Homo sapiens: one gene and its partner. The protein of the gene in region 1 interacts with the protein of each later gene in a biochemical or structural test. Each region holds a gene or a part of one and is shown on either strand. Other genes may lie near its edges. The genes, in order: INCENP and EVI5.

Region 1 (12,404 bases):
ACAAGGATGGACATACAAAGGTCAGAAAGGAGCTGGCGGGGGAGGCAAAGCAGGAGGCCAGGTGGGGTGTTCAATCCCCAGCCCACAGCTCTTCCCACTGGCCCCTGGAGTCAAGGTCAAGGCCTTGACCTGGCCTCTTCATATCCATACCCCGATGCAGCCCCTTCCTCTGCTTCCTGTCCCAACCAGCCACAGCCCCCCATGCTGCACTCAGTGACAGCTCCAGCCCAACGGTGGGAGGTGAAGTCTACAGACTCAAAAGGGATCTCTGCACCCCCAGGTTTAATTTCTCTTTAGCCTACTGGCCCAGAAAATGGGGCTTCCTTATCCCCAGAGAGAAGGTCAGGCCGAGGCCGCCAAGGCCCGCTGTGGCTCCGGGCACTGCACACGGCAGGTCAGGAAGCCTCACCTTGCTGCCCTGCAGAGGGTGTTTCCGGGCTGCTGGCTGCAGGCTTCGGGTTGGGTGTGCTGTTGGCAATCTCCGTGTCATTGTGGGGCCACGAGTTATTTCCATTGTTCTCAGGGACCTGTGGAAAGAACCAAGGCTTTAGGGGTCTTGACCTGGAACCCAAGGCCCAGGATGGCCGTAGTGCAGAGCGGGAGCCCCAGAGGTGAGTCCTCCCTTCCCCAGGCAGCCGTCTTACCTCTGGCTCAGCTGCCGCCACAGGCTCAGCCTCCTCGGGGGGTTCCTTCTGCTCAGAACTGAAAACAGAAGAGGGACTCTGAGGGGACTGCCCAGCTAGTCCAAGCCCTCCCCCTAGGGAGTCCCTCTACCATTCCAGGGATGGGGACCCAAGAGGTCAACACAAGGTGCCCTGGCCAGGGCCACGAACCCACAGCCCCCTGTAGGATAGGAGGATGGCAGCTCCCGGCAATGGCTCCATGGACAGACGAGGGATGTCAGCTTCAGAATGTGGCTTCATCTCCCTGGCACCCCACCACAGAGCTGTCTCAGGATGTGAGCCCTGTCCTCAGCTCCGCCTCCACCTCTTGGGCCCAGGTGAGCTGCATCTCTTTTGTGGTCTGTTCTCTATTCACCATGGGGCTGGCAAGGCCAGCAGGTCTGCCCTGTCACCCTGTTTCCCCGTCCCAAGAACAAACCCTCTGCTCTGCAGCAAGGAGGGAGGGGGCTGGTTTTAGTGATGGCAGGACACGGCCTCCAGGAAAAGGAGTCTGTGTCCTGGCCCGAAGCAGCACTGGGTGTAATCCTGGAGCACTCCTATCCTACCCCAGCCAGTTTGAATGTAGCTCTTCCTGGCAGCCCCGCCTCACCCCCAACCTCTGGAGCCCACGCCCCAGGGTCAGGTCTAGCCAGGCAACCAGCAACGCTGACGGGTGCTGCAAGGAGACCAGGTGGCCAACACCCACATCACTCACTGCCTGGTCAGACAGGGAAAACGGGGCAGCTCCTGGGCGGTCAAGGCTCAGTGGGGAAGACTCAGCCCAGGAATTGCTTCCAGCCCTGGTGCTCACCTTGGCTCCCTGTCCTGGTATGCCCTGCCTACCTCCGAAGCCCTGGAACTGAACTCACCCAACTTTCTGGGGCACCTCAACATTCAGGAGCCTCTCCAGGTAACTGTGACCTGAGGGGGAAAAGAAAGGCACAAAAGATCTCATCAGAGACCACACAGGTCCCACTCTAAGGGGTCCAGGGGACCGGGTTCCAGCAAGGGCCTGGCCACTGCTCCCATCACTAGCCGTGGAGCCCCCACCATGCCCAGGACCCTCCCCTCAGCACTCATACTAGTGTCCTTATCGGAGCTGCTGGCTTCATGTCCCCGGCTGCTTCCCAGATGGTCTTCCCATGCCCATCTGAGAGCACGGCTGGGCACCTTCACTGGGCTGGGAATATCTCGAGAAGAGGGACAATGTTTGCTGCAGCTCCAGGCCCCAAACTCCCAGCATGGGGCCCAACACAAAGCAGCTTATTCTGTCAACAAATATTCATCAAGTGTCTACAGTGTACTGGGACCTGGGCCAGGCCCCAGGACCCCAATGGTGAGCAAAACAGAACCACCATCTGGTCTAGATAACAATCATCAAATAGTCCTATCAACAACACCAGCATGGGCAATGGTGGAACAGAGCAGAGAAATTTTTTTTCTTTTTTTTGAGACGGAGTCTTGCTCTGTTGCCCAGGCTGGTGTGTAGTGGAACAATCTCAGCTCACTGCAACCACTGCCTCCTGGGTTCAAGCGACTTCCGGCTAATTTTTGTATTTTTAATAGAGACAGGGTTTCACCATGTTGGCCAGTCTGGTCTCGAACTCCTGACCTCAAGTGATCCACCCGCCTCGGCCTCCCAAAGTGCTGGGATTACAGGCGTGAGCCACTGCGCCTGGTCCAGAGCAGAGAATTTTAAAAGCCTATGATGGGGGGACCTGAGCTGGCCTGGAGGAGTTTACAAAGGAGGAGGATGTCCAGGCCAGTGGTTCTCAGCTTGCATCCTCTGACCCTTGGACGTCCTTGAGACCCATGGGGGATCCACGAGGTCGTAACTAATCATGATACTAAAATTATGATACTAAAATGTTACTTTCCCTTTCACTATGTTGACATTTGCCCTGATGGCACAAAAGCAATGAGGAACTAGCTGCTGAAGCCTCAGCCCCAGTCAAGGCCAGAGCATCAAACACTATCCTCGGACCACACACTCACGGGAAGGAGAGATGTCCAGTTTCACTGAGGAATGTCCTTGATGAAGGTGTAAAAAGTACTAATTTTTTTTCTTTTTTTGAGACAGACTCTCACTCTGTCACTCAGGCTGAATGCAGTGGCGCAATCTCAGCTCACTGCAACCTCCACCTCATGGGTTCAAGGGATTCTGGTGCCTCAGCCTCCCAAGTAGCTGGAATTACAGGCATGTACCATCACACCCAGCTAATTTTTTATATTTTTAGTAGAGATAGGGTTTCGCTATGTTGGCCAGGCTGGTCTTGAACTCGTCCTCAAGTGAACCACCTGCCTCAGCCTCCCAAAGTGCTGGGATTACAGGCGTGAGCCACTGCGCCTGCAAAAGTCCTAATTTTACTAAATCTAAACTCAAGTACATGCCATTCTACTCTTCTGTGTGCTGAGGTGGGAAGTGTGCACAATGCCTGTTGCTGCAAACCCAACTCTCTGTGAAAAGCGCTCGTCTCTAAGCTGCCAGCTGCACTAGCCACTTTTTCACCTGAACCACTATTATTAATTAAAAGAACGACTGACAATGGTTATTCAGTCTTGGGTATCTGGAAGACATTTTTTCACAAGTCAATGAAGTGAATCCATCACAAAAATAAAACACCACGTGCTGACAATAATTTAAAAATTGGGCCAAGGCCGGGTGCGGTGGCTCACGCCTGTAATCCCAGCACTTTGGGAGGCCGAGGCGGGCGGATCACTAGGTCAGGAGATCGAGACCACGGTGAAACCCCGTCTCTAGTAGAAATACAAAAAATTAGCCGGGCGTAGTGGTGGGCGCCTGTAGTCCCAGCTACTCGGGAGGCTGAGGCAGGAGAATGGCGTGAACCCGGGAGGCGGAGCTTGCAGTGAGCTGAGATTGTGCCACTGCACTCCAGCCTGGGCAACAGAGCAAGACTCCATCTCAAAAAGAAAAAAAAAATTGAGCCAAAACGAATCCAAGAGTAGAATTTTGAAAAGCGCGTATCCACCACCAGCAGGGTCACAGCATCCTAATATCTAAGGACTTTTCTGATGAGGTCAGAAAACAAATGTGCTTTTTTAGGATATTATATAATGAAGGGTGTCAACACTTGGAAGACGTGCATAACTTGGTGAAACAATATTTTCGAAATGATCGATGTATGTGGTTATGAAATCAGACACATCTAAAAGATCCATTCAAAGTGTGGCCAGTTGTGGTGGCTCACGCCTGTAATCCCAGCACTTTGGGAAGCCGAGGCAGACGGATGATTTGAGGTCAGGAGTTTGAGACCAGCCTGGCAACATGGTGAAACCCCGTCTCTACTGAAAAGACAAAAATTATCCGGGCGTCGGTGGGCACCTGTAATCCCAGCTACTCGGGAGGCTGAGGCAAGAGAATCACTTGAACCGGGAGGCAGAGGTTGCAGTGAGCTGAGATCGCACCACTGCACTCCAGCCTGGGCGACAGAGTGAGATTTCATCTCAAAAACAAAACAAAACAAAAAAAAACAAAACAAAGTGCAAGGTAGACCCGTGTGGAATCAGCAACATGGTTTCAGATTCCACACCACAACAAACCTTTAAGAACTACCACTTCTTGCGCTGGTCCTGATAACAAAGAATATGCATAATTATCTGAAAAAGCTATGAAGATACTCCTCCCTTTCCCAACTACACGTCTATGTGAGGCCAGATGTTCTTTAGCTACTTTTTTTTTTTGAGACAGAGTCTCACTGTATCACCCAGGCTGGAGTGAAGTGGCGTGAATTCAGCTCACTGTAACCTCCACCTCCCGGTTTCAAGCAATCCTCCTGCCTCAGCTTCCTGAGTAGCTGGGACTACAGGCACGTGCCACCACGCCCAGATAATTTTTTGTATTTTCAGTAGAGACAGGGTTTCACCATGTTGGCCAAGACAGTCTCAATCTCTTAACCTCATGATCTGCCCACCTCGGCCTCCCAATGTGCTGGGATTACAGGTGTGAGCCACCTCGCCCGTCCAGTTCTTCAGTTACTTTAACCCAAACAACACAATGCAACAACAGATCAAACGCAGAATGTGGCTTATTTAAAGTCATACAATAAAGAGATTTGCAAAATGTAGAATAATGCCAGTGTCTTCAGTACATTTTTGTTTTGGAAAAGTTATTTTTTCATAAAAAGTCTTAATGTAAACAGGTGATAGGCTTGGTACTTGCATTTTATAATGTTAAAATATTAAACAATATTTTTAAATCTTTAAAGTACTAAATATTCATATAAAAATATTAATATTTAAAATACTTTTAAACTCCTCAGTTTTAATTTTTAATACAGTAACGATCAATAGATATAACCTCATAATCAAAGCTTTTTTTTTTTTTTTTTTAACAGAGTCTCACTCTGTCTGGAGTGCAGTGGCACAATCTCAGCTCAGTGCAGCCTCGACCTCCTGGGTTCAAGCAATCCTCCCACCTCAGCCTCCTGAGTAGCTGGGACTACAGGCACATGCCACCATACCTGGCTAATTTTTTCCATTTTGGTAGAGATAGGGTCTGGCCATGTTGTCCAGGCTGTCAAAAGCTTTTTGAGGCTGAGGCTTAATCATTAAAAACAGGAAGCCCAGGTCCCTCACCCTCAGCACTCACCCTGGTATCCTCACCACAGCTGCTAGCTTTATGTCCCCGGCTTCTTCCTAGCTGGGAGCATGCCTGTTCCCAGTGCCACTGGTCTAGGGAGAAGGAGGGCCAAGGCCATGAGGCAGGAAAAAAAGAGGCTTTTTTGGGGAACAGAGAGAAGGTAGCTGAGCTGGCGCATCCTGAGCCATGGGGGCTTGGTCAGAGTTCAGGCTGGGAGGTGGCCAGCGGGAGGTTGGGGTGCACAGGGTCTCAGGAAAAGAGGGAAGACAGCAGGCCAGGCACAGAGAAGGGAAGCCAGGACCCTTCCTGGGTATAGCAGCCAGGTTTGGGGAGGTGGTGGGAGCAGCTGCAGCGCCGGGCTGACAGTCATGGGTGGTGATGACCCCCATTTAAGGGGTTTATACCCAGAAGATACATCCTCCTCATCTCCCCATGCTGTGTCATCCCAGCTCACGTGCTCCCTGATGAAGACGCCCATGTGACTACATGGCTCTCCCACCAGCACAAGCATTCTCTGGAATGCTAAGTGCCATCTGCACGACATTCAGGCCTCAGAGCTGGTCTGGTGGTAGGGAAGTGGCCTAAGCACTGGCAGAGGGATGGAAGGACTGTTCTCCAATGCAGAGGTGGCTCGAACGCCCCAAGGTGGAGTCCTGAGGCAGTGGGCCTGTCCCTTCCTATCCACTTCAGAACTGCTGCCCGATGGGCCCCGCAGGCACGTGCGCACCAGGCCAGGAGGCAGGGGATTCCTGCTGACACACAGCAGTTCCACGCCCCGGGGCCACACTCTGGCTTCCAGAAGCCCCCTCCACCCACGCTGACTGCTGGCTTTTTTTCCTATCTCATTTTTCCATTCCTCTGGTGCAGGTGTTTCCTTCCCATCCCGAATTTAATTTTTGGGAAATTAAATTTGTTAATTTCCCAAAAATTAACAAATTGAACTCAAATCCTTGTGTCAAGGGCTGCTCGTGGGGAACACCCAAACCAAGACCCCACCTTGGAGCTGCCCGAGAGCCTCTCCCAGAGCCTGGTATCAGGAAGACCCCCAGGAAGCCTCCTCCCCTGTCACCGCCCCACTCCCTGACACCCTTGCAGCTCCTCACTAGGGGTCGGCCTTGTCGCACCCAAACTGAGCATCAGCCATTGGTGAGTTTTCTCAAATAAGATGTACTGAGTATCCACTACACTCAAGCACTAAGATGAGTTATCTATTCACATTCAAAGCAAGTGTTATCACCATTTCACAGAAAAGCTGAGGTTGAGAGAAGGGGTGTGCCCAAGGTCACCCAGGGTCTGTGTGACTCCAGATCCTAGATCCTGTATCCTCCTCTCTCTCCTCCACCCCCTCAAGAGGAGAGATGATGCTGGGCTGGGAGTCAGACAGACCCAGGTAACATGCACCAGTCAAATCAGAAGCCCATTCATGGGCAGGGAAAGGGTAGACAGAGAGGGAAGAGTGATGGAAGGGCATGAGAGCTGCAGATCTGGATGTCTGCTCCAAAGGTCTCCAGAGATTCTCTGCAACCCTGCCTGGCCCTCCCTCTACAGGCCCAGGCTCACCTGCCCCCGCTTGAAGCCCCTTCCCAAGATCAGATCCAGGCCTGAGAAAATCTCCAAAACAGATCAGAACCATTTAGATCCTTCTGAGAATCCAGAAATAGACAGTGTGGCAGACTGCACATCTGCACACGCCCCAGAGTATGTCACCCCAAACCCTGGAGCAGGCCCGTCCCCAGGCAGTGTGACTCAGGCAGAGAGAAAGCTGCCAAGGTGAGGTGCCCTCCCCTGCCTGACAGGCCCTGCCCTGCGGCCTTGCACAAAGCCTCTTCTGCAAGCACCTGACTTTCTGGACAGAATGAAACACACAGCGCTCAAGCCCCAGCTTCCCGATTTACAGACTCCATGGCCTCCTTAAGCCTCAGTTTCCTCCTCTGTAAAGTGAAAAATTCCTCACAAGCTAACAATGCTGCTGTAAGGACCAAATGAAATAACCTTTCATTTTATAAATCTTAAAGTGCCAGGCAGATGCCAGCTACTATTTAACATGCGTTGAGATAAAACCTGGGCTGGGCGCAGTAGCTCACACTTGTAATCCCGGCACTTTGGGAGGCTAAGGCGGGTGAATCACTTGAGGTCAGGAGTTCGAAACCAGCCTGGCCAACATGGTGAAACCCCATCTCTACTAAAAAACAAAAACACAAAAATTAGCCTGGTGTGATGGCGGGCGCTTGTAATCCCTGCTACTCGGGAGACTGAGGCAGGAGAATTGCTTGAACCTGAGATGCATGCAGAGGTTGCAGTGAGCCGAGATCGTGCCATTGCACTCCAGCCTGGGCAACAGAGCGAGACTCTGTATCAAAAAAAAAAAAAGATAAATCCTGGCCTATCCTCGCCACCAATCCGCTGCTTTGCCCGTCCTCTGCCTGCATCCTTACAGCAGCCTCCTATCTGGTCTCCCTGTTTCCCTCACTTTCCCATCATCAAGCCACTTCTTTTGCTTCAGTGGGGTCAAGTTCAAGCTCTTGTGTGAGCATGAGCCCCAGACACCCATCACTTGTTGCTTTAGGCATCAGGGTCTTCGTACAAGCTGTTCCCTCTGCCAATAACACATATCCCCGCATTTTTTTTCCACTCAGCAAAAGCGCAGCCATCCTTCAGAACCCTCCCAGCTCAGATTCACCTCCTCATGCAGCCAGCCTGCCCCTCCAGACACCTGCTCCAGTGGGCAATGGCCCCCTAAGCTGAGATCTGAGAGAGCAGCTAACATTACCGAGTCCTTCCTATATGCCAGGCACCCTTCTAAACTCCCTGTGTGGGGTGACCAAAGAAAACCTCACAACGACCCTTTGAAGTGACGCGATTAGCCCCAGTTGACAGGCAAGGAGTGGAGGCCCGTGAAGTTTCCAGGACCTGCCCCAGGCTGCAGGGTGGGTGAATGGCTGAGTTGGCACTCAGACCCAGGCCGGCCAGCTCCAGAGTCAGCTTGGTTCCCCCTCCTGGCTCCCATCAGATGCCCAGTCATCTGATCTCCCCGAAGGAGCCTGCTGCCATAATTCCCTCCTCCAGATCAAACACAGTGTCGCCAATAGGCGGCGCGCAAACCCGGTGAATTTAAGTGGCCTCTGCAGCATAGGGTTGGGAGGAATGAGCTGGCCCTGCGGAAGAGGCCCAGGCTCCAGCCTCAACATGGCCAGTAACCACAGCCACACAGTGGCCGACCTTCCCGAAGCTCAGTTTCCTCACTTGTAAAGCAAGTAGGTTGGGTCAGACCTGCACCATCCAACGTGGAAGCCACTAGCTACATGTAACTATTTAAATCTAAAAGAAGTAGAATGCAATACAATTTAAAATTCAGTTCCTCAATCACACTAGCCACATTTTGAGGACACAATCGCCAGATGAGGCCAGCTAGCGGCCACCATCCCAGGACAGCACAGATGTGTAACATCTACCTCACTGCAGAAAGCTCTCTGGACAGCTCCTTGCTAGATGATCCCTCAGAAAGCCTCCATCTGAGCCTGGCACCAAGGACCACCCGCCACTGCCAAGCCCCCAGACTCACAGATGATGCGGCCAGAGGCAGCTGGCTCTTCGGCAGTCTTCTTGGCAAGCCTTCTGCTCGCCCTGCGGACAACACTTTCCTGTTTGGCCACCAGAGAGTACTTCTGGGCTAAGACTTGGGGACTCGGGGAAGACGGGGCGATCGGGCTGTGCCGCACCGATTGAGAGTCCGTGCGAGAGCCCGTGGGCGTGGAGAAGTTATCCGGCAGGATGGGAGCCAGCACCCGCTCCCGCCATGGAGAATCTGGAAAGGCTGGCGAGTCCCGTGGGCCAGGGGAGACCTGCGCAATCCTGAGCTTAGACGCAGACCGCCCCGTCCCGACCCCTTGACCCTTGGGGTCCTGGGGTGTAGCCATCAGGGAGCTCACTGTGATGGACTCCAGTATCCTGGCCTTCGACTTCTTAGGTGTTGATTCCTCATCTGATGTCGGGATGCCCTGGGAGGTTGGAGCTGTGGCTGAAGCTGGAGTCGGGGACAGAGTGCGGGGCAGAGGCTCGGTGGACATGAGCTGGGTGACATGCTGCTCAGCATTCTGGCGCTCACTGATGCCGATCTCCACCACAGGCACCAGCTGGCACTGGGTGTGGTTATCCTCGGGCTTCTTAGTCAGCATCGTGGGAGACTCAGGGGTGGGTGAAGAAGGTGCAGCCAATGCCATGGTAGCCGCGGCAGCTGCAGCCGCAGCACGGGTCACACGCCGCAGGACGGAGCCGTTCTCCCCGACCACTGTAGCCAGCTTCTCTACACTGTCCTTGCTGCGGAGGCGTCGGGAGCTCAGCTGGCTGCTCCGAGACTTTCTGCGGGATAACCTGGCAGGGGCAGCAGGGCAGAGGCTGAGACGGGCAGCAGGACAGGGTGGCACCCAGTCTCTCCAAGAGCCACCAGCTTGGATAGAGTATGATAAGAGAAGGTGAAGGCAAAAGATCTGGGTTCCAGGCCAGATTCTGCCACCTCTAGCCATGAGGCCCCAGGCCATTCTTGTCTGAGCCGCAGTCTTCCTAACTGTAAATTGGGGATCATGCCACAGTCCGCACAGAACTGGCTAGGAAGATTATATTCATCCAAACCTCCGGCTGACTGAAGTTACACCACACCGAGCCCCTGCTGAAAGCCTTACACACGCTCTGCCTTAATCCAGAGCACGCCCTTGAGAGGCAGAGACCACTATCCCCATTTTAGGGATGAGGAACGGAGGCTCAGAGAGGCAGAAATTCAATTCAAAGCCGTACTGCTCTGCTAAGGGGCAGAGCTGGGGTTCACACCCAAGCCTAACCCCAAGACCCAGCCTCTTTCCCTAGCACTCTGCAGCCCCAATCATTCCTGAGGGGGACTAAAACAAGCATGACAATATGACGGCTGGGACAAGGCACGTGGTCTACACCCCTGGTCACACTCACCTAACAGAAGGATGGCTTCTCTTTCTCATCCCACCTACGGAAATCTTTCCCATTCTCCAGGGCCCAGATCAAACACACCCACCCCCAACACACAGCCACAGATTTGGACTCCAGGGTCTTGGGTCAAGCTATAGTTCCCTGTGGCATCCCAACCCCTCTCAGCATGGCCCACGCAGTACCCGCGGTGGTACCCACCACCCCTCCTACAGGCTGCTACTTCCAAATCAACACCTTCAGAATCAAACTCCCAGATGGCACCAAGCCTCCGCAGAGCCCACTGCTCAGCTCACTCTCCCCCAACCCCTCCTACCTTCTCCTGATGGGATCTCTGTTTTCATCCTGAACATAAGAAATCCGTCTCTTCTTCCGTCGGTTCTTCTGAGAAGGTGTTTTGGGCATCAGCTCTGGCTCTTTGCTGAATTCTCTGTTTGGCACAAGGAGGGTGTCACTCGAGGCTGCCTGGGAACCACTGGTCCCCTCTCCCACCCAGCCTGGCCCCTGCCCATTTCCTGGCAGCGACAGGTCAAGCTGGGGTGTCCAGCACCAAGTGAGCTCTCCAAGGCCATGTGCAAGTCACCTGCGGGCACTCAGGGCTTCCTCCTGGAGACACGGCAGGGAAGCAAGCTCCCAGGCGCACGTCCATTGCCACATACCCTGAGAGGCCCAGCCAGCAACGATGGCGAATAGGCAAGGGACTGGATCTCTCCTGCTGCCTCTTCCCATGACACTAGGTCAGGCCCCCAGCACACTGCACACACAGTATACAGCAGGGAGCCCTGACAGGCTGTCTGTTTTGCCAGGTAGGCGGGGACGAGGGGCTGTTGTGTCCCCAAGACCAAAGCAGCCCAGACAGGCCCTGGTGTTCCCAGCCTCTCACTGTGCCCGTCTTCACCTGGTGAACATGCGCTCGGCCTCCTCTTGGATTTCCTCAAGCCACACCAAGTCCTTATTATCCATGTTGCAGAGAAACTCCATGAGCTTCTGGTCACATAGCTCCAGCAGGTGAATGGGCCCTGGGGCCGTCGTCCCCATGGTGGCTCTGTCTGGTGAAGGCAGGGACAAGAGGCACAAGTTAGGGGCCCAGGGTAGGGGTCTGGGGCTTTCTCCAAGCTGCAATACCCACCTGACCCACAACCACCACAAACACCCAGTGCCCGAACCAGGGCCCCTCTCTGCTCACAGCCACTCCCCAGAGCTGCAGAATTCCAAACACTCATCCCCTAGCCTCATCTCTACAAAGAGAAGCCCTTCTACTCACACTCTTCAAATACCTCCCTGTCCCCACCCCCCCGCCAGCATGACTGTCCCCATAAGTCCACAGTTCCCAACCAATTCTGACATTGACAGTCCTCCTTATAAATGGCCTTTTCTGGGCTTAAGATGACAGGGCACTGCCATCTGTCTTCCTGGCCACCCCAGGGCCCCTCACTCCCTGCCCAAACACAGTCCTGCTCTCGCTCTCCAGTAGGCCCTCATCTTACTACTCATGGTTAAGTGAGGGCTAAGACACAGCCACCCTGCACTACATACAAGCTGACTCCAGACATCAGGCCAAAGAACATCAAACCCAACTGCCTCTTTAAGAGGCCAGTGAGCAGAAGAGATTCTGTGTTCCAAAGGAATGAGTGAGAAAGTAGTGATCCAGAGATATGCCCTCAAGGGGCCTCCCACAACCCTCTCCCTTGAGCTGAAATGCCCTCCAAATGGAGCATAAATAGAACAAGAAGGGAACAGTAAGCAATATCTTGCTTTTAAGAAAACTTGCCTACAAGCATTGAGCAAGAGAAAACACAAAAACAGTTTTTTCTCACTTTCTTATAAAACTAGCAGCTCAGGTATCCTCCTTAAAACTTGATAACCAGCCGGGTGCAGTGGTTCACACCCGTAATCCCAGCACTTTGGGAGGCCGAGGCAGGTAGATCACATGAGGTCAGGAGTTCAAAACCAGCCTGGCCAATGTGGTGAAACCCCAACTCTACTAGAAATACAATTAGCTGGTCATGGTGGTGTGCGCCTGTAATCCCAGCTACTTGGGAGGCTGAGCCTGGAGAATCACTTGAACTAAGGAAGTGGAGGTTGCAGTGAGCCAAGATCACACCATTGCACCCCAGCCTGGGCATCGCAGCGAGACTGTCTCAAAAAAAAAAAAACAAAACAAAAAACTTGATAGCCATTACAAAAAC
Region 2 (16,020 bases), on another chromosome or scaffold:
AGACATCCTTATTATCAGTCTAGTGATTTTTGCTGCTGTTCTATTCCTTTTATTTTCCTGTTAGCTCCACAATAACCTTTTAGTAGTCATTTCTCTTGGGCATCTAAAGAGCAGTTTTTCTCTGCTTGAGGTCTGAATCTCTCAACAGCTGACCTAGCTCTCTAGGAATCCTGTGGATCCTGTGAATCCTCTAGGAATCACAGTTTCCTTCAAGACAGGGCAAGCAGTGGTGGTAGAGATATTAACTTCAATAAGTATTATTACCACCATTGGAGTAATAAATAATATTTTGGTGATTGATCTACTTAGCTGTTGTCAGTGGCAGCAGTATATTAACACAAGAACAGTAGTCACTTATGGCCCAGGGCCATAAGGTAGAAAAGCTCCTCTTTTTGTTTCTAAAGTTTATGCCGACACCTTATGCTATATTCTCCCATAACTTCAGTTTAGAAATGTAACTCAGAGAGTCTGATAAAATTTGCAAAATTAGTACATACTTTATCAAAATGGTTAGAAGTATGTATGTTTTGTATATATCTCACTCCTATAATATTAGGTATATTGTCTGCATTAGACCTTTGCAAAAGACATGGATTCTTATCAGCTCAGAGTCACAGAGAAAGTTATGTAGCAGCACATTGCTCTAGGACTCAAGTGTCTTGATTTCTTTCTAATGGAAAGGAATGACTATAAAACAACTTGGTGTATGCCACTCCGTGTCACATTTTTTCATTTTGTCACCATGGTTTCAATTTTTTTGAGAAGGACCTAGTGATACTTTTTCTGTCTCCTTTTCCTCTTTTGTCAAATTACCTCAACTTATTTTTTAAAATGTTGCCATTAAAAAAAATTCTCCTCTAGTTCCCATATCAATGCTATTGCAAAGAGGAGAGGGAATGAAACTTGTTTTGATATGTTCAGAAGAGAAGAAATTGTTGTAAGACAAAAAGGGAAATTATAATTACATACTGCATAATGACATTTTGGTCAACGGTGGACTGCATGTGTGATGGTGCGCCCATAAGATTATAATACCCTATTTTTACTTTGCTTTTTCTATGTTTAGATACACAAACATGTGCCATCATGTTACAGTTGGCCTACAGTATTCAGTACAGTAACATACTATACAGGTTTGTAGCCTAGGAGCAATAGGCTATATAGCATATAGCCTAGGTGTATAGTAAGCTATATGGTATAGGTTTGTGTAGGTGCACTCTATGATGTTCGCACAATGATTAAATCGCCTGAGGACATATACCTCAGTAATCTCTGTCCCCTTCCAGTGCTGTGGGAGAGAAAAGAGAAAACAACTACCTTAGGAGAGAGCCAGGTTTCAGTGTTGAAATATTCTTAGGGGAGATACAGATTTCAGCTAAAGAAAGAGAGGAACATTTGGAAAAGAGATTGAGGATATAGGTAGACTATTCTGTTGATGGTAGGATATGGGTTCCAGAAAATGCTGTGGAAAAGATTTAGGAAAGATTGGAAATGGGGTCAGATTAGGAGAACAGTAAAATCATTTAGGATGAGAGTCCTGGGATTTGGGGCTTCTCGTAGTGACTGACATAATTCAGTGGGGCTGTGGGGCTTGATAGAATTAATAGAGATAGTCTCCTAAGTAGAATTGTGGCCATCTGTGTTGAGAGGAAGGAAGAAGTGCAGGTTTTGCCAAGAGTGACTCTTGGCCCCCTGTCCGTGGCTGTGTCAAGGCCAGGAAAAATGTCTTGTTATTAGCAGCAGTCTTCAGTAAGAAGAAGGCCTGGAGATCCTTTGGGATGTTCTCTTTTGAAACACACTGGTATAACGGGAATGAATGAGAATTAGCAAATTTTATTATTTTGAGAAAGATGGTTTAACAATTTGGATAGTTATTTGCCTAAGTATTCTGAATATCTTTGTAGCTCTTTACAGAGCTTTCACATTCATTATCTTATTTGATATGATTTCCTAGTGATTTACACATAAAATGTGAAATTGGTACCTTTAAACCCCAATTTCAGATAATGTGAAAACTTAATTTATATGTCCTTTTAATACTTGTACCATGTCATATGATTTTTTGCTCAGAATCCTCAAAAATCCCTCTCTCTCACTTAAGGTAAAAGTCGAAATCCTTACAGTGGCCTCTACAGTCCTCTGCATTTTGGTTCCCTGTTATTTCTCCTCCATGATGTAACCTTCACTCATAGTATTCTAATTTAGTAGTTCTCTATTTGCTGTTTCTTGAGCATGCCAAGTGTGATTCCATTTTAGGACCTTTGTACTCTTTGGTCTTCTGGAACTGTTCTTTCCTCAAATGCTCCCTTGCTTTCTTCAGGATTCTGCTTAACTGTTACCGTATCAGGGGACCTTTCCTGATCTATATCAATAGCCGTGTGTCTCCCCAGCATTCCCTACTTTATTTTATTTCTGTAGCATCCATCACCATCTGACATATATATTAGTTGATTTATTCCATGTCTTGTCTGTCTCCCTCCATTAGAAATTCAGGTTCCTTGAGAATAGAGATTGTGTTTATTTTGTTCACTGGTGTATACCCAGAGAGAGAAAAGTATCTGGCTGTAAATCAGTATTTTGGGTTGAATTAATGAATGAGGCAAGTTGAGGCAGTTGGTTTCAGAGGTTGTAAGATTTGTTTAACTTCTCATTCTTGGTGATAGAATGGGAGACTAGAACTTTCTGATTCTTACCTCATTGCTCTTAACATTGCAGCACACAGCCACTCAAACAATGTTTGTGGTTGGCTGTGTACTTAGTTTAAATATCATTGGTTTATTTGTGTATCAGAGAACATTAACCTATGTTGTTTTTTTTTCTTCCAATGTAGATGCCAGAAGAAGAAGCTTTCTGTGTATTTGTTAAATTAATGCAAGATTATAGACTTCGTGAACTTTTTAAACCAAGTATGGCAGAATTGGGCCTTTGTATGTACCAGTTTGAATGTATGATACAGGTAAAAGTGCAGTGTTGATAAAAAGGCATATTGCCTTTATATTTTTTATATCTTGTTCTGAGTGCCAACTAAGCAAATTTAATGTTAAAAGCATTAAAGCACTTGAAGAAGTAAGTGTTTTAATTACATGATTGTTTTTTGGTTGGTTAATGTACAATTTGACCCTTCAAATTAGGTAGATCACAGTCTAGGACTTGACTCCAGTTTTCATATTCAATCCTTAAGCATTTCTGCCAAATGTACTATACACCCCTTACCTAAGCACATGAATTTCCTTATTATATCCTATTATTGTTACGTAGTCTAAGCTCTCTTACAGGAGCTTTATGATATTACACTGACATCAGTCCATTTACTTGGAGACTGTCTCTTTGAGTCCTCTCCTCTGCCTTTTTACTTTTATTTTATTTTTATTTTTTGCTAGCCCGTAATTTTTTTTCCTGTAATGTTTTCTTATGTTGCTAGTTTAAGACTCAAGTTATCTAGTGACTGTATGAAGGTGGAGAGAATAGGAGCAGAATCAAAATCAAGGGAAAAATACCTTTGAAGTATTTTACCTTTCTGGATTTAATTTTTATATTTTATATATTTAAGTTTGCTATAATGTAAATATTTTCATTTATTTCAATTTCAATTTCAATTAAATGAGCAGAATTTAAGAAAATAGGTGAATGAATCAGCTGGCATGAGAGCCATTTTTATTAGTTTCCTCTCTCCTGGCAGCCTTATAAACTCCAGTTTTTCCCATCTGTGGTGGGAGCAAGGGGATATGTAAAATGTTCTTATATTTTATTTTTTATTTATTCATTTATTTATTTTTGAGATGGAGTCTCGCTCTGTGGCCCAGGCTGGAGTGCAGTGGCGTGGTGTCGGCTCACTGCAAGCTCCGCCTCCTGGGTTCATGCCATTCTCCTGCCTCAGTCTCCCAAGTAGCTGGGACTACAGGTGCCTGCCACCACGCCCAGCTAATTTTTTGTATTTTTTTAGTAGAGATGGGGTTTCACCATGTTAGCCAGGATGGTCTCGATCTCCTGACCTCATGAACCGCCCGCCTTGGCCTTCCAAAGTGCTGGGATCACAGGCGTGAGCCACCGCTGTGCCTGGCTAATTTTTTAATTGACATACAATAGTTGTACATTATGGGGTACATATTTTTTGTTTTTATATATTTTAAAGAAAAAGCCAGAATAGGTTTTGAGATGATTTTTTTTTTTTTCCTGAGACAGAGTCTATCTAGCTCTGTTGTCCAGGCTGAAGTACAATGACACAATCACAGTTCACTGCCGCCTTGACCTCCTGGGTTCAAGCCATCCTCCTCCCTCAGCCTCCTGGATAGCTGAAACTACAGGTGTATACCACTGCACCTGAATAGTTTTTTATCTATTTTGATTTTTTATTTTTTAATTTTTGTAGAGACAGGGTTTCACTCTGTTGTCCAGGTTGGTGTTGAACTCCTGAGCTCAAGTGATCTTCCTATCTCAGCCTCCCAAAGTGCTGGGATTACAGGCATGAGCCACTGTGCCTGGACTTGAGATGATTCTTAATTAATTCTTTTCTGAAATAGTAAGCTTGTTTTTAGCAGCCTTAAACTCTCTTAATGTTATATTTTCAATTAATGTGTCATTTATGGCTGGACGCAGTGGCCCATGTTTGTAATCCCAGCACTTTAGGAGGCTGAGGTGGACAGGTCACTTGAGCCCAGGAGTTTGAGACCAGCCTGGGCAACATGGCAAAACCTTGCCTCTACTAAAAATAAAAAAAATTGGCTGGGCATGGTGGTGTGCACCTGTAGTACCAGCTGCCTGGGAGGCTGAGATGGGAGGATTGCTTGAGCTTGGGAGGCAGAGGTTGCAGTGAGCCAAGATCACACCACTGTACCCTAGCCTGGGTGACAGAGTGAGACCCCATCTCAAAAAAAAAAAAAAGTCTCATTTATGTTTTGAATTACTAGAGTTGCTGAAACATCTGTATTTTGAATATTTTTCCTATTCTTTAGGAAGGTAAGAATGGGTGATCAGTGGTAGATAGTGCCTGAAAGTATTTTAACATACCATTTATTTTCTTTTTAAACGTCTTTTTAAAATATTATAGTTGATAGAAGAGTATAGAAAATGTCAGTCACTCTTGTATCCACCAACAGGATTAAACAAATATAAAACTTTTATTCAGTTTCTTTTTATTAATAAATTAAATGTTATACTCAAAATTCCAACTTCACATTCTTTCCCCCTTCTTTCTTTCCTAGATACTAGCCACTGTCCCAGATGTTTCAATGTCTATGTCTTACCTTTTCCATATGATGCTTGATCTAATCTGTGTTTGGTATAGGCTAATCTAGTATAAATATAATCTAATTTAAAATACTCAGTTTTACTGTGTTATAACTAATTATTTTCTTCTCTTTAGGAGCATCTTCCAGAGCTCTTTGTACATTTTCAATCTCAGAGTTTTCATACCTCAATGTATGCATCATCCTGGTTTCTGACTATCTTTCTTACAACTTTTCCACTACCAATTGCAACAAGGATATTTGATATCTTTATGTCTGAGGTAAGCTAATGGGCAGACAAAGAGCAGGAGCTGAGCAAAGGGGTCACTGAGTTAGTGAGAGCAGGGCAATGAGGAGAGCAATGAAGGAAAGCCATGTGTCCCATGCAAAACTGCTTACATGGATAATCTCATTTAAACCTTATAATAACCCTATCAGGTAGATACTGTTTTTATTGCATTTGTTAGATGATAGATGAGGAAGTTGAGACTTAGAGAAAGGTTAAGTAGCTTGTCTATGGACACACAATACATAAGTGGTGTTGTAACCAGGATTCAAACATAGGCAGTTTGGAGCCTACACTGTTAATCATACCTCTTTATCACCTCCTAACTCATACAGTGAAAGTTAGTGAGAGGTAAAATTTGTCTTACAGTTAATATTGTTGAAATGCATCTGTCATCCAAAGAGTAAGAAGTAATAAGCATGTTTCTTCTATGAACACATTGCAGGTTGTTGTCCTTTTGTCAGTAGCACATAGAGGTAATCCTTTGTTTTCTAGTCTGTGAACTCAATGTTGTTATTAATTACATCTTGGGAAAATCAATTTGTATTACCTATCTAAATTAGTTCAGATCACAGTTGGTCAGCTGTGATTCATGTACCAATCAGATGGACAGATTTTTGTGCGAAATCCATTCTTCCACACCTGTTTTTTATAAAGTTTTCCTAGAACACAACCCTGCCCATTTATTTATATGTCGTGTATGTCTGCTTTAGGGTTGTAGTGGCAGAACTGAGTAATTTTGACAGACAATATAGCCCACCAAACCTAAAATACTTGCTTTCTGACTCTTGACAGAAAATGTTTGCCAGCCCCTAGTTTAGATCCCTAAATGTTTACCTTAGTATTATTTCAAATGACTCGTTTTTGTTGATGGAAGAGTAACATAAATTTGGATTTATTTAATTTGTTTCCTCAGGGTTTAGAAATAGTGTTTCGTGTAGGATTAGCACTTCTTCAGATGAATCAGGCAGAACTGATGCAACTTGACATGGAAGGGATGTTACAGGTAAGTTCATAATTTATTTTCTTTTTTTTTTTTTGAGACAGAGTTTAGTTCTGTTGCCCAGGCTGGAGTGCAGTGGCGTGATCTTGGCTCACTGCAACCTCTGCCTCCCAGGTTCAAGTGATCCTCCTACCGCTTCAGCCTTCTGTGTAGCTGGAATTACAAGCATGCACCACTACACCTGGCTAAGTTTTGTATTTTTAGTAGAAACAGGGTTTCATCATGTTGGCCAGGCTGGTCTTGAACTCCTGACCTGAAGTGATCCGCCTGCCTTGGCCTCCCAAAATGCTGAGATTACAAGCATGAGCCACCACGCCCAGCCCATAATTTCTTGAATGTCTTTGGATTTCACTATTAACAGCACTAAGTCATTCTTATGTTTTTTTTTTAATTGTATCTTAGCACTTTCAAAAGGTCATTCCACATCAGTTTGATGGTGTCCCAGACAAGCTAATCCAAGCAGCTTACCAAGTCAAATACAATTCAAAAAAAATGAAAAAGTAAGTATTTTATATTTTTGTTGGAAATTCAGTGGAAGTTGCAAAACATTCTAGTGATACAGTTTTCCTCCTTAGGTTATAGAACTATATTATTTTCTTCGGTGGTATTGGTTTCAATATAGCATAAAGCTAATGTTGGAATATACTGCTTTTAACAGTGGTGCATGGGACTAGCATGTACTACCTTTAAAACTTTCCTCCTTTTCCACGTTGACTAGAATTAGGAGCCTGGAATGGATATACATATATGAGGATGCTGTTATTTTTAAAACCACTTTTCTGGTGTGGTCCCATTCATTGACATTCTTTTCCTCTTAGTTTGACCCCACAGTGTCACTTAAGTTCAAAATTAGCATAACCAGCAAGATAGACATGAGGTATGGATTGAGAACTTAAAATTTTATTTATTTATTTTAGAGACAGGCTTTTGCTCTGTCACCCAGGCTGGAGTACAGTGGTGTGATTATGGCTGCTCACTGTAGCCTTGAAATCCTAGGCTCAAGTGATCCTCCCACATCAGCTTCCTGAGTACAGGAAGTACCCTGTCTCTACTAAAGCACAGGTGTACTACAGGCGCACACCACCATGCCTGGCTAATTTTAAAATTTGTTTTGTAGAGACAGAGTGTCACTATGTTGCCCAGGCTGGTCTCGAACCCCTGGGCTCAAGTGATCCTCCCACCTCAGCCTCCTAAAATGTTGGGATTACAGGTGTGAGCCGCTGCACCTGGTCAAATCTTATTTTTTGTACTACTTTCTAATGAAGCTTTTTTTGGCATTCATGTCCTAAAAGTTCAAAATAAAGTCTCTGCTCATTAGTTTTATTTTTGAAACAGATTAAGTGTATTAATTAAAATAATAGCTGTGATTTCTCTAGCTTCCAGTACTTAATTCTTAGCCTGCGGTCATAGTTAGCATTTCTGATACTGTACTTTCTATGGTATAAAATGCTTTAAAATGATAACAGTACTGTATGCTAGCAGTTAGCAGTTTTTCTGCTGCAATATGAAATTACATTAACATGTACAACATACTACTCCCATGGATATTCCTACTCCACAAAGTATATTTAAATATGAGTGAGAATTAATGTTATTAAAATTAGTTAGCTTTTCCATGCACAATGATGTGTACCTGTAGTCCCAGCTACTCCGGAGGCTGAGGCAGGAGGATTGCTTGAGCTCAGGAGTTCACAATCAGCCTAGGTAACATAGTGATACCTTATCTCTTTTAAAAAAATTAAAAAGTTAGCTCTAATTGACAAAAGCAAGCCAAGCCGATTTTTGAGCTTCAGCTTTTATTAAGTTACTTGTGATGTTTTAAATAACCACCATCATGTTGATACGTTTTAAATAACTACCATGTGTGGAGACATCATATAGACAAAAAGCCGCTGTGCCTTGTAACTGATAAAAACAAATTATCTCAATTTTTGTCACTTGGTAAAACCACATTGAACTCACACTAGCCAGGCAGAGAATTTATTTGACTTTAAAAGTCTGATAGAGAATGAGGTTCCTTAACCTTCTTGGTAACTAATTCTCCTTGCATAGATCTTGTCATATGTACAATCCATTTCTGAAATTTCAATTAATCCTGTTTACTTATCAGATTTCTGGCCCTCTATTTCTTTCACTTCCTTATTCGTGCTCTCCCCATTCTGCTTTATCAAGATCTCTAGATTGAGGTTTAAAAGCCTTCTTCTGATATGAACAACTGTGCTTCCTCTGCCCTTTTGTTTCCTGTATTCATGTATCCAATTGTTATTGCATAGTTACTGAGATTGCTGACAGTAAATTATGTTTCCAGTGGCCTTCCATGTATATTTATATTGACTTTGATTAATTATCTCATTCCTCACAGTGGTTACTTCAAACCTTACCATTCTTCCCAAACTCCCATCCCCTTTTTGCTATATGTAACTCTCACCAGATTACCTTATTCCTAATTCAGCAGTCATTTCCAAACTTCCTAAACTTGCTGTCTTCCAGCTTGTAGACTTAGCTATGTTCTTTTTCTTCTCTTTTTAGAATACAGTATTTTTTTTTCCTTTATAATGCTAATTCAGAATACGTGATGTTACTCATTTCCATCTCTTCCAGGTCTTTGCTCCATTAATTATTCCTTCTCTATCTTCAACCTCTCTCTCTGTTGTTTCATTTTCTTCAATCTAAGAAGATAATTTTGAGTTCTGACTTAGAAGCAACAAAACAAAACCTTCCTCAACATAGCATTTCATTTTCCTTTTATGAAGCTTAGCTGTGAAGGAAAGAATAGATTTTACTCATTAGCTACAGATCACATTCTATTTGCTTTTTTTCACTTGGGAAAATTTTCAGACATAACAAAAATAGAATAATAAATATCCATTGCTTATTGTCTGTATTTAACAACTGTTAATATTTTGTCATATTTATTTTTTTCAAAGTATTTCAAAGTAAATATTGTTAATATTTTGTCATATTTATTTTTTTCAAAGTAAAGCTCAGAAATTGTGACACTTCACTCTTTAATACATCAGTATTCATGTCCATAAAGTAATTTGCCTCATTTACCACATTGCTTCCACCACTTAACAGTAGTTCCATAATACTGCCTAATACTCAGTCTATGTTCACATTTCCTCAGTTGTGCCAAAAATGTCTTTGCCATTGATTTCATTGTATTCAGTTGTTCACTTACATTTTTAAAAATTTAGATCAGCACCACCTATTCCAATCTTCTTTTTTAATATATTGGCTTGTTGAAGAGACCAAGTCAGTTATACCGAGAATATCCAACCTGAAGGATTCATCTGATTATTTCCTTGTTATCTCATTTAACTTCTGTATCTCTTGTGTTTTCTATAAACTGGGAGCTAATGTGAAGACTTAATCTAATTAAGTGCAAACATTTCTGACAAGAATACTTAATAGGTGATACCATGTACTTTATTCATCTTAAAAGATGCATAATGTCTGTCTCACTGTTATTAGAGATGCCATGATTGGTGACTAGGTTAAGGTAATGACAGATTTCTTTATTATGAGGTTATGTTTTCCCTCTTGGCACCCAGTAAGTACTTTGTAAGTTGATACTTTGGCATTGTAAGAATATCCAGTTCATTATGACCTTCCACCTCTTGGCTCAGTCTGCTCAAAAGTTATTATTGAGGGCCAGGCACAGTGGCTCACACCTATAATCCCAGTACTTTGGGAGGCCGAGGTAGGCAGATCACTTGAGGCCAGGAATTCAAGACCAGCCTGGGCAACGTGGTGAAATCCTGACTGTATAGAAAAAAAAAAGACCAAAAATTAGCCAGGTATGGTGGTGTACACCTTTAGTTCCAGCTACTCAAGATACTAAGTTGGGAGAATCACTTGAGAAGTCTAGGATGCAGTGAACTGTGATTGCGTCACTGTACTTCAGCCTTGGCAATAGAGTGAGACCCTGTCTCCAAAAAAAAAAAAAAAGTATCATTGGGGATACTTTTCATGTTAAATTATTTCATTTAGGATAACAAAAGCATGATTTTAAAAATGTTATTCTTCTTACATTTATCAGTCAGCTTTCTTCATAACCTTTTCTTCTTTAACTGCAGCTAACTTCATTCTACTGGAAACACATATAAACACTTCATTATTTCAGCCAGGCGTGGTGGCTCACACCCACAATACCAGCACTTTGGGAGGCCCAGGCAAGAGGATTGCTTGAGCCTGGGAGTTTGAGACCAGCCTGGGCAACATAGCGAGACCCCATCTCTGCAATAAATAAAATAAGCTAACCAGGTGCCTGTAGTCCTGGCTTTTCCATAGGCTGAGGTGGGAAGATTGCTTGAGTCTGGAGTTGGAGGCTGCAGTGAGCTGTGATCACAGCACTGCACTCCAGCCTGGGTGACAGAGTGAGACCCTCTCTCTTAAACAAAACAAAACAACTTTATTATTCCCTTTAATTACCAATTTCCAGAGAAAAGAGTTAGTGGGAATGGTGTTCTTTTAAATTAGTCTATTCTTTTGCAGGTGGCATTATTAACGAATTACAGCCTATATTCAGAATGTTTTAAGGTTGCAAAGTAAGCTGTGTTCAACATCACAAAATTTTGCCAAAGTGACACTAATCTATAGTCTAACCCGGCAGTGTAAGAGTTCTTATTGTGGCCACGTGCAGTGGTTTAACATCTGTAGTCCTTTCACTTCAGGAGGCTGAGGCAGGCAGATTGTTTGAGCCTAGGAGTTTGAGACCAGCCCAGGCAACATGGTGAAACTTTGTCTCTACAAAAAAATAGAAAAATTAGCTGGATGTGGTGGCGCCAGCACACCTGTGGTCCCAGCTACTCAAGAAGCCAAGGTGGGAGGATCACTTGAGCCTGGGCGGTCCTGGCTGCAGTGATCCATGATTGTGCCACTACACTCCAGCCTGAGTGACAGAGTGAGACCCTGTCTAAAAAAAAAGTCTCATTGTTCTACTTTGTCATCAGTGCTTGGTTATTCTTAATTTTTGCCAATCTACTTAATTTTTACCAGTAGCAGGGGGCATTATTAAGGACTTACAGGTTTATATTCAGAATGTTTTAAGGTTGCAAAGTAAGCTGTGTTCAGCATCACAGAATTTTGCCAAAGTGACACTAATTTGTAGTCTAACCCAGCAGTGTATGTGTTCTCATTGTGGCCAGTATAAAATGTCTCATTTTCCACTTAATTTACATTTCCTTGATTGTTAATAAGACTAAGCATCTTTTCATATGTTTATTGGCCTCATGTTTTTCTTCTATTTTTTTCCTCCCTTTTTTACTGCAGTGTCTACTTCATACTGCTTTGACTTGTTAGTGGTTACTAGTTGTTTATGATCTGGGTTGTAATCTTTTGTCAGCATTAAAAGATAAGTCTTGTCCATTTCTACTAAGTATCAGTTTTGGAATATATAATAAACTCAACAATTGGACCTACCTCTCAAAAATGCTCAAGCTTCCTGTTGGTTGGAGGGTAGCAGCACAGAAAAGTAAATGGCTTGTTAGATGCAAATATGTAACAGATTATTAAAATTATATGTTAGAGATACCTAACCCGTATGTCTTCAGACTGGCATACACAGACTGCTGGGTGTCAGGAAAATGTTCAGAGCTTGGTTAAGTAGACTTTCAATTTCTATCTATAGTCTTTCCTACAATTTATCTTTCTGATAACATTTCTGTAGTAGAGGTGCCTCGGTTCTTCTTCGCACCTTCCTTTTTACAGCATGCCTTCTCCCACTTTATTAAAGGAAGGAAGGAAAACCTGTCACCCAACCTAGATCTTACTATGGTACCTTACTTTAGTTTATAAAAAATCTCTGTGGCTCCAAACAAAATGAACAATTTCAGAATGACTTGCTCCTGAGGGAGTATCCCCTGAGAGAGCATCCCCTGAGAGAGCAAAGCAAGAAAAATGGAAGTTTTCTTTATTATTATTATTATACTTTAAGTTCTAGGGTACATGTGCACAACGTACAGGTTTTGTTCAGCTCCCACCTATGAGTGAGAGCATGCGGTGTTTGGTTTTCTGTCCTTGTGATAGTTTGTGTAGAATCATGGTTTCCAGCTTCATCCATGTCCCTGCAAAGGACATGAACCCATCCTTTTTTATGGATGCATAGTATTCCATGGTGTATATGCGCCACATTTTCTTAATCCAGTCTATCATTGATGGACATTTGGGTTGGTTCCAAGTCTTTGCTATTGTAAATAGTGCCGCAATAAATATACATGTGCATGTGTCTTTATAATAGCATAATTTATAATCCTTTGGGTATATACCCAGTAATGGGATTGCTGGATCAAATGGTATTTCTAGTTCTAGATCCTTGAGGAATTGCCACACTGCCTTCCACAATGGTTGAACTAATTTACACTCCCACCAACAGTGTAAGCGTTCCTATTTCTTCACATCCTCTCCAGCATCTGTTGTTTCCTGACTTTTTAATGATCACCATCTAACTGGCATGAGATGGTATCTCATTGTGGTTTTGATTTGCATTCTGTGATGACCAGTGGTGATGAGCATTTTATCACATGTCTGTTGGCTGCATAAATGTCTTCTTTTGAGAAGTATTTGTTCATATCCTTGGCCCACTTTTTGATGGAGTTGTCTTTTTCTTGTAAATTTGTTTAAGTTCTTTGTAGATGCTGGATATTAGCCCTTTGTCAGATGGGTAGATTGCAAAGATTTTCTCCCATTCTTTAGGTTGCCTGTTCACTCTGGTGATAGTTTCTTCTGCTGTGCAGAAGCTCTTTAGTTTAATTAGATCCCATTTGTCAATTTTGGCTTTTGTTGCCATTGCTTTTGGTGTTTTAGTCATGAAGTCTTTGCCCATGCCTATGTCCTGAATGGTACTGCCTAGGTTTTCTTCTAGGGTTTTTATGGTTTTAGGTCTAACATTTAAGTCTTTAATCCATCTTGAATTAATTTTTGTATAAGGTGTGAGGAAGGGATCCAGTTTCAGCTTTCTACATATAGCTAGCCAGTTTTCCCAGCATCATTTATTAAATAGGGAATCTTTTTCCCATTTTTTGTTTTTGTCAGGTTTGTCAAAGAGCAGATGGTTGTAGATGTGTGGTGTTATTTCTGAGGCCTCTGTTCTGTTCCATTGGTCTATATATCTGTTTTGGTACCAGTACCATGCTGTTTTGGTTACTGTAGCCTTGTAGTATAGTTTGAAGTCAGGTAGCGTGATGCCTCCAGCTTTGTTCTTTTTGCTTAGGATTGTTTCGGCAATGTGGGCTCTTTTTTGGTTCCATATGAACTTTAAAGTAGTTTTTTCTAATTCTGTGAAGAAAACCAGTGGTAGCTTGATGGGGATGGCATTTAATCTATAAATTACCTTGGGCAGTATGGCCATTTTCATGATATTGATTCTTCCAATCCATGAGCATGGAATGTTCTTCCGTTTGTTTGTGTCCTCTTATTTCATTGAGCAGTGATTTGTAGTTCTCCTTGAAGAGGTCCTTCACATCCCTTGTAAGTTGTATTCCCAGGTATTTTATTCTCTTTGTAGTAATTGTGAATGGGAGTTCACTCATGATTTGGCTGTTTGTCTATTATTGGTGTATAGAAATACTTGTGATTTTTGCACATTGATTTTGTATCCTGAGACTTTGCTGAAGTTGTTTATCAGCTTAAGGAGATTTTGCACTGAGATGATGGGGTTTTCTAAATATCCAACCATGTCATCTGCAAACAGGGACAATTTGACTTCCTCTTTTCCTAACTGAATACCCTGTATTTCTTTCTCTTGCCTGATTGCCCTGGCCAGAACTTCCAACACTATGTTGAATAGGAGTGGTGAGAGAGGGCATCCTTGCCTTGTGCAGGTTTTCAAAGGGAATGCTTCCAGCTTTTGCCCATTCAGTATGATATTGGCTATGGGTTTGTCATAAATAGCTCATTATTTTGAGATACGTTCCATCAATACCTAGTTTATTGAGAGTTTTTAGCATGAAGGCTGTTGACTTTTGTCAAAGGCCTTTTCTGCATCTATTGAGATAATCATGTGGTTTTTGTCGTTGGTTCTGTTTACGTGGTGGATTATGTTTATTGATTTTCGTATGTTGAAGCAGCCTTGCATCCCAGGGATGAAGCCAACTTGATCATGGTGGATAAGCTTTTTGATGTGCTGCTGTATTCGGTTTGCCAATATTTTATTGAGGATTTTCACATCAGTGTTCATCGGGGTATTGGCCTAAAATTCTCTTTTTTTGTTGTGTCTCTACCAGGCTTTGGTATCAGGATGATGCTAGCCTCATAAAATGAGCTAAGGTGGATTCCCTCTTTTTCTGTTGATTGAAATGGTTTCGGAAGGAATGGTGCAAGCTCCTTTTTGTACCTCTGGAAGAATTTGACTGTGAATCCATCAGGTCCTGGACTTTTTTTGGTTGGTAGGCTGTTGATTATTGCCTCAATTTCAGAACCTGTTAATTGGTCTATTCAGGGATTCTACTTCTTCCTGGTTTAGTCTTGGGAGGGTGTATGTTTCCAGGATTTTATCCATTTCTTCTAGATTTTCTAGTTTATTTGCACAGAGGTATTTATAGTATTCTCTGATGGTTGTTTATTTCTGTGGGATCGGTGGTGATATCCCCTTTATCATTTTTTATTGCATCTATTTGATTCTTCCCTCTTTCCTTCTTTATTAGTGTTGCTAGTGGTCTATTTTGTTAATCTCTTCAAAACACCAGCTCCTGAATTCATTGATTTTTTGAAGGGATTTTTGTGTCTCTATTTCCTTCAGTTCTGCTCTGATCTTAGTTATTTCTTGCCTTCTGCTAGCTTTTGAATGTGTTTGCTCTTGCTTCTCTAGTTCTTTTAATTGTGATGTTAGTGTGTCAATTTTAGATCTTTTCTGCTTTCTCTTGTGGGCATTTAGTGCTATAAATTTCCCTCTACACACTGCTTTAAATGTGTCCCAGAGATTCTGGTACATTGTGTTTGTTCTCACTGGTTTCAAAGAACATCTTTATTTCTGCCTTCATTTTGTTATGTACCCAGTAGTCACTCAGGAGCAGGTTGTTCAGTTTCCATATAGTTGTGCGTTTTGAGTGAGTTTCTGAATCCTGAGTTCTAATTTAATTGCACTGTTGTCTGAGAGACCGTTTGTTGTGATTTCTGTTCTTTTACATTTGCTGAGGAGTGCTTTACTTCCAACTATGTGGTCAATTTTGGAATAAGTGCCATGTGGTGCTGAGAAGAATGTATATTCTGTTGATTTGGGGTGGATAGTTCTGTAGATATCTAGTAGGTCTGCTTGGTCCAGAGCTGAGTTCAAGTCCTGGATATCCTTGTTAACCTTCTGTCTTGTTGATCTGTCTAGTATTGACAGTGGGGTGTTAAAGTCTCCCATTATTATTGTGTAGGAGTCTAAGTCTCTTTGTAGGTCTCTCAGGACTTGCTTTATGAATCTGGGTGCTCTTGTATTGGGTGCATGTATATTTAGGATAGTTAGCTCTTCTTGTTGAATTGATCCCTTTACCATTATGTAGTGACCTTCTTTGTCTGTT

What was found.
Region 2: the proteins of INCENP (region 1) and EVI5 form a complex in vitro, tested with the Homo sapiens proteins (one study listed by BioGRID).

The regions. Positions count from the first base shown.
Region 1 is NC_000011.10:62,127,011-62,139,414, reverse strand, and holds part of INCENP (inner centromere protein), read right to left. Parts: intron 11,265-12,404; 5' UTR 11,254-11,264; coding exon 11,114-11,253; intron 10,646-11,113; coding exon 10,532-10,645; intron 9,634-10,531; coding exon 8,825-9,633; intron 1,584-8,824; coding exon 1,532-1,583; intron 703-1,531; coding exon 645-702; intron 528-644; coding exon 410-527; intron 1-409. UniProt on the Homo sapiens protein: Component of the chromosomal passenger complex (CPC), a complex that acts as a key regulator of mitosis.
Region 2 is NC_000001.11:92,684,796-92,700,815, reverse strand, and holds part of EVI5 (ecotropic viral integration site 5 protein homolog), read left to right. Parts: intron 1-2,830; coding exon 2,831-2,956; intron 2,957-5,362; coding exon 5,363-5,506; intron 5,507-6,427; coding exon 6,428-6,517; intron 6,518-6,916; coding exon 6,917-7,014; intron 7,015-16,020. UniProt on the Homo sapiens protein: Functions as a regulator of cell cycle progression by stabilizing the FBXO5 protein and promoting cyclin-A accumulation during interphase. May play a role in cytokinesis.